Homo sapiens: one gene and its partner. The protein of the gene in region 1 purifies or fractionates together with the protein of each later gene. This does not show direct contact. Each region holds a gene or a part of one and is shown on either strand. Other genes may lie near its edges. The genes, in order: GOLM2 and KDM3A.

The links.
Region 2: the proteins of GOLM2 (region 1) and KDM3A purify together in Homo sapiens (affinity purification with mass spectrometry; one large-scale study listed by BioGRID and IntAct). This does not show direct contact.

The regions. Positions count from the first base shown.
Region 1 is NC_000015.10:44,413,262-44,416,362, forward strand, and holds the end of GOLM2 (protein GOLM2), read left to right. Parts: intron 1-74; coding exon 75-145; 3' UTR 146-2,497; downstream 2,498-3,101.
Region 2 is NC_000002.12:86,465,123-86,468,953, reverse strand, and holds part of KDM3A (lysine-specific demethylase 3A), read right to left. Parts: intron 2,583-3,831; coding exon 2,071-2,582; intron 1-2,070. UniProt on the Homo sapiens protein: Histone demethylase that specifically demethylates 'Lys-9' of histone H3, thereby playing a central role in histone code.

The DNA of each region.
Region 1 (3,101 bases):
AAACTGAGACATTAATTGGATTTCTGCAGTGATTTAAAAAATAATATGTTGATACAAAATTATTTTACTTACAGATGATGAAGAACGAGAGCTTCAAATGGATCCTGCAGACTATGGAAAGCAACATTTCAATGATGTCCTTTAAGTCCTAAAGGAATGCTTCAGAAAACCTAAAGTGCTGTAAAATGAAATCATTCTACTTTGTCCTTTCTGACTTTTGTTGTAAAGACGAATTGTATCAGTTGTAAAGATACATTGAGATAGAATTAAGGAAAAACTTTAATGAAGGAATGTACCCATGTACATATGTGAACTTTTTCATATTGTATTATCAAGGTATAGACTTTTTTGGTTATGATACAGTTAAGCCAAAAACAGCTAATCTTTGCATCTAAAGCAAACTAATGTATATTTCACATTTTATTGAGCCGACTTATTTCCACAAATAGATAAACAGGACAAAATAGTTGTACAGGTTATATGTGGCATAGCATAACCACAGTAAGAACAGAACAGATATTCAGCAGAAAACTTTTTATACTCTAATTCTTTTTTTTTTTTTTTTTGAGACAGAGTTTTAGTCTTGTTTCCCAGGCTGGAGTGCAATGGCACAATCTTGGCTCACTGCAACCTCCGCCTCCTGGGTTCAGGCAATTTTCCTGCCTCAGCCTCCCAAGTAGCTGGGATTACAGGCACCCACCACCATGCCCAGCTAATTTTTGTATTTTTAATAGAGAGCTAATAATTGTATATTTAATAAAGACGGGTTTCACCATGTTGGCCAGGCTGGTCTTGAACTCCTGACCTCAGGTGATCCTCCTGCATTGGCCTCCCAAAGTGCTGGAATTCCAGGCATGAGCCACTGCGCCCAGTCTACACACTAATTCTTGTTAGCCCAACAGCTGTTCTGTTCTATCTACCCCTCATTTCACGCTCAAGGAGTCATACCTAGAATAGTTACACACAAGAGGGAAACTGGAAGCCAAACACTGTACAGTATTGTGTAGAAAGTCACCTCCCTACTCCTTTTATTTTACATGAGTGCTGATGTGTTTTGGCAGATGAGCTTTCAGCTGAGGCCTGATGGAAATTGAGATAACCTGCAAAGACATAACAGTATTTATGAGTTATATCTTAGTTCTTGAAATTGTGGAATGCATGATTGACAATATATTTTTAATTTTTATTTTTTCAAGTAATACCAGTACTGTTTAACTATAGCCAGAACTGGCTAAAATTTTTATATTTTCAGAGTTGAAGTTGGTGAAGACATTCATGATTTAAACACCAGATCCTGAAAGGGGTTAAATCTACTTTGAAATGAATCTGCAATCAGTATTTCAAAGCTTTTCTGGTAATTTTAGTGATCTTATTTGATTAGACTTTTTCAGAAGTACTAAATAAGGAATTTTAACAGGTTTTTATTAATGCACAGATAAATAGAAGTACAGTGAGGTCTATAGCCATTTTATTAAAATAGCTTAAAAGTTTGTAAAAAAATGAATCTTTGTAATTACTTAATATGTTAGTTAAGAACCCGTCAAGCTTATATTTGCTAGACTTACAAATTATTTTAAATGCATTTATCTTTTTTGACACTATTCAGTGGAATGTGTAAGCTAGCTAATTCTTGTTTTCTGATTTAAAGCACTTTTAAATCTTATCCTGCCCCCTAAAAACAAAAGGTTTTGATCACAAGGGGAAATTTAAGATTGTTAACCCTGTTTTTCAGAAGGGCTACTGTTAATTGCACATAAACATGAAATGTGTTTTCCCCTGTGTACTAACACATTCTAGGCAAAATTCAAACTTATAGTGGTAAAGAAACAGGTTGTTCACTTGCTGAGGTGCAAAAATTCTTAAGACTTCTGTTTGAAATTGCTCAATGACTAGGAAAAGATGTAGTAGTTTACTAAAATTGTTTTTCTACCATATCAAATTAAACAATTCATGCCTTTATAGGGTCAGGCCTACAATGAATAGGTATGGTGGTTTCACAGAATTTTAAAATAGAGTTAAAGGGAAGTGATGTACATTTCGGGGGCATTAGGGTAGGGAGATGAATCAAAAAATACCCCTAGTAATGCTTTATATTTTAATACTGCAAAAGCTTTACAAATGGAAACCATGCAATTACCTGCCTTAGTTCTTTTGTCATAAAAACAATCACTTGGTTGGTTGTATTGTAGCTATTACTTATACAGCAACATTTCTTCAATTAGCAGTCTAGACATTTTATAAACAGAAATCTTGGACCAATTGATAATATTTCTGACTGTATTAATATTTTAGTGCTATAAAATACTATGTGAATCTCTTAAAAATCTGACATTTTACAGTCTGTATTAGACATACTGTTTTTATAATGTTTTACTTCTGCCTTAAGATTTAGGTTTTTTAAATGTATTTTTGCCCTGAATTAAGTGTTAATTTGATGGAAACTCTGCTTTTAAAATCATCATTTACTGGGTTCTAATAAATTAAAAATTAAACTTGTTTCACTGTTTTGCTGATTCTAATACATACACAAACATCACACCCATGATGTAAATACATTTTAACACTAAAATCTGAGTAAGTTTAGCACTCATTTTAAGTTAAGCTAAACTAAAAAACCAAATTTTTTTTTTTGAAACGGAGTCTCACTCTGTTGCCCAGGCTGGAGTGCAGTGGCGCATCTCAGCTCACTGCAACTTCTGTCTCCCGGATTCAAGCAATTCTCCTGCCTCAGCCTCCCAAGTAGCTGGGATTACAGGCACGTGCCACCACACCTGGCTAATTTTTGTATTTTTGGTAGAGACAGGGTTTCACCATGTTGGCCAGGCTGGTCTCAAACTCCTGACCTCAGGTGATCCACCTGCCTTGACCTCCCAAAGTGCTGGGATTACAGGCATGAGCTACCATACCCGTCCTGAAAACCAAATATTTTTACACCAGGGCTCTTTACTGTAGGTCTAGTTTATTCAACAAATATTGAATGCCTATTATGTGCCCAGCATTGTTCTAGGTATTAAGATAAGTGGATAAGATAGACAAGGTCTCTGTTCGCATGGAGCGTACATTCAAGTGGGGGCAGTCAGACAATACACAAGTAAACAAAT
Region 2 (3,831 bases), on another chromosome or scaffold:
CTTATCTGTTCTATCCTGGCTCACAAGAGGAAATATCTAGAAACAAGAAAGCTGAACTGTCTAAATCTAGCTCTTTACTGAGGAGAGCAACAGGTGCTACCATCAGTGATTCTCTGAATTCAAAGCCAAGTCAAGAGAAAAATGCAACGCCCACTTCCGAGGAGCCACGTATCTATCTGAACGGAAAAAAAGGCAGCTGTTTGACTCCAGTTTGCTTTTGTTTTCTAGACCCCAAGTGGAAGAAAGGAGCAGAAAAGTTTTCCAAGCCTTCTGTACTAACATGCAGTACTAGTGGACACAGCTCAGAAGTCCCGGTAGGCTTCTGATCACACTCTCACACCTCAACCAAAAAAAAAAAGTCACAGTAGATAGCAGGATGTGCTACTCCAGGATGTAAGTTTTTCACTTCTTTTAAAATCCATTAGATGGGGAATAGCTACATAACATATTAAATGAGACAAAGCTGGACTCCGTAACTCACTTGTGTATCTATCATGTGCTTATTGCACTAGAATCTTTACTGTTTCGTCACATAATATTAAATTTGCTTCAAAAACTAGCTGTGTGTGAGAGCTGATGATTCAAAAACAACAAATAGAACAAGGATATGGTTATGAATATGTACTTTCTTTTGAGTGTTACCTAATTTCTGAGAACAGGATAATCTTATGCAATTAATTTTATGCAAATTAACAGCTATATTAACTTAAGCCTCAATGAAGAAGCTAGGTTAGAAGTATTGCTAGGCAAAGAAAGTTCTTTCTATTCTTCCAATGCTATACTAAAAAGATTCGCAAGTCAAATCCAGCCATCTTGCCCTCTAATTTCACAGAGGCCTGCAGTTAAAAAGATAGTGTAGATATATTCATTTTTACTGATCCAAATAAATAAATTGTTTTCGTAGGTTGTTTTCGTTTGTTTGTTTTTTGAGCCAAGCTCTCACTCTGTTGCCCAGGCTAGAGTACAGTGGTACAATCATAACTCACCGCAGCCTCCAACTCCTGGGGTCAAGCAACCCCCCTGCCTCAGCTTCTCCAGTAGCTAGGAATAACAGGTGTGCCCCACCATGCCTGGCTGATTTTTAAAAAAATTTTTTGTGGAGATGGGGTCTCACTATGTTGCCCAGGCTGGTCTCAAACTCCTGGTCTGAAGCAATCCTCCCACAGTGGTCTCCCAAAGTATTAGGATTACAGGTGTTAGCTACTATGCCCAGCCTAAAACATTAACAAAATCCATATCAATTTCCCACATAGCTAACAGTGATCAAAAGGCATCTTTAAATTCTAATAGCTCTAAACCTTTTGACATGCTGAAAACATTTTGTTCTTCTAACTCTAGTAACAGAGCTTCTGATAACTACCACCATTATAATGCATCCTCAAACTTCATATAAGTAGCATCAAGTACAACGTACCAATTTCCCCATAAGAAGAGTAGTTTTAAATTGTGGGTGCAGCAGGACCTCCCCTTAAGCAAAGAGACTCTTCCTGGTAGTTCAGCCCTATCCGTAACATCTTTAACCCAAGTCCTTTTTCCAGAAATGATACAATTCTGCATCTTTTCTAAAATTTCAAATCTTAGCTACCTGTCACAGATCACCTCTTCCTACTCCAACCTGGATGTAACAGAAAGATCAGTGACAAGCTGAAATAAAGTAAACACCAGATTACTTTAGATTTTGTTTCAAAATTTTCTTAACCTAAGAATTGGGAACCACCTAATTACCCACCTAATAGGAACCAGTTAAATCCTATGGTAAATGAACATAATGGAATCCTTGCTTTAAAATACTAATAGACACCTACACTAATTCACAGGGTAAAATTATTGGCATGAACCCATTTGTGTAATACAGTTTATCTGTATTTCTATATACATGAAACCAGGTACACCAAAATATTAACAGTAATCGTTTCTGAGATTTGGGAATTATACCTTCTTTCAACTTTTCTGACTGTATAAACTATTTCTACAAAGTCATTTTCACATAGTTTCTCATAGGACAAGAAAGAGATATATATATCTACCATTTCTTACCTTCTACCAATAAAGATATTGAGAAACACTCACCATTCTGGATTTTATTGTTGCTTCTTGAACAACAGCTTTCATTATCTACTTTTACTGAAGATTCCTTTAAATTCTGTGATCGGCAAGCTAAAGCTGAAGGTTCTACCTTTTTTCCTGAACAGTTATTAGGGCTATCACTATTGACACCTGCTTTCACTTCTGGTGCATTTGAAACATCCGATGGGGAAGGTGCATGTTCTAGGTGCTTCTGCAGTTCAGGAGGATTGGCAATTTCCAATTCTGCCTTAGAAGAAGCCTTTGTAGGTAAGCACTCCTTAGGAAGGCCAGTCAATGCTTGTGGAACAGACTCCAATCTGTTTTCCTGATCAGTGTTTGTCTTAGGCTGAGTACAGCTGCCTTTTGGCTCAGTCAGAATTTTCAAGTCTCCAGTTCCAATCTGAGAGGACTTTGAGAGCAACCCTGCTTTGCAGACATCTGGTTTTGTTCTCAGAGCTTCAGACTTTGTATTTAGACAGGAAGAAATTTCCTCTGGTAAACTTTGTTTATGACATCTGAAAAATATAATATAGAAAGCTAGCATCCAGGCCTCTTTTTATCTCTCCATTATCTTCCCCAAACAAACTGTTTGGTTCCCTAAGGTAACGAGTATGAAAGAAAAAAGAAAATTTCTCATATGTTACAGAATTTAGGATAGATTTCTGTGAGCTAGAGTTAAAAGTCATCAGTCAATGGTTCTGCAAAAATCATAAACACTCAGAAAAATACAACCCTAAATTATGTCTGCACGTTCTCAGAAATCTTTAACTTCTTACGTTAGTTCTACTTCTCACAGCACAATGAACCTTAGCTTTCCCTCAAAACAAAATATTGTATGAAACCAAAGAATATACTCAGCAGATAAGCTGGTTTATAAGTATCAAAACCAGAAGTCTGTGTAGGGGCAATTCCGAAAGTTTTCTTTCTTCTTTTTTTTTTTTTTTTTTTGTGTGTAAATTTCAGAGAAACCTCTGCTAAAACTCTTTCTTCTATAGTAAAGATTATGTTTGAATTTTAAAGATAAAACTCCATTCTTGCTACTTGCCAAGAGTCAAAAATTGAACCTCTAGTAAAGGTCAATGTGTCAAGATAAAAATTCTAAAATATATACGTATATAAAAAATGTTAGAAATCCCTTCAAAGATATTCACACAAAATCTAATTAAAAACGAACAATGGGCAAGGCACAAGGGCTCACACCTGTAATCCCAGGATTCTGGGAGGCCAAGATGAGAGGACTGCTAGAGGCCAGGAGTTCATGACCAGACTGGGCAAAATAGCAAGTCCCCCATCTCTACAAAAAAATTAAAAATTAGCCTGGTGTGGTGGCACGCGCCTGTAGTCCCAGCTACTTGGGAGGCTAAGGCAAGAGGATCAATTGAGCCCAGGAGTTCAAAGCTGCAGTAAACTTAAACTTTGACTGTACCACTGCAACTGCACTCCCTCCTGGGCAACAGAGCAAGATCCTGTCTCTAAAAAACCTCAAAAACTAAAAAAAAACTAACAAACTGGCAGCAGCACAAAACCCTTTTCTGCTATGAGCAACATGTAACCAGCCCTAACAGAGAATAATTTCATTCTTGTTTGTTCAGTGATCAGCACACAGAGCAAATAGAATAGCTGATTGATTACTTGGTTATTCACAGAACGATTTGGTATTTTCCCTGTACATCTTACTAGGGATAGCCTTGAAGAACTTTTGTTTCTTAGCATCCTAGAGTTCTTTCTCCAGAAAAATGCAAAGTCCTTTTTTTCTATTATACC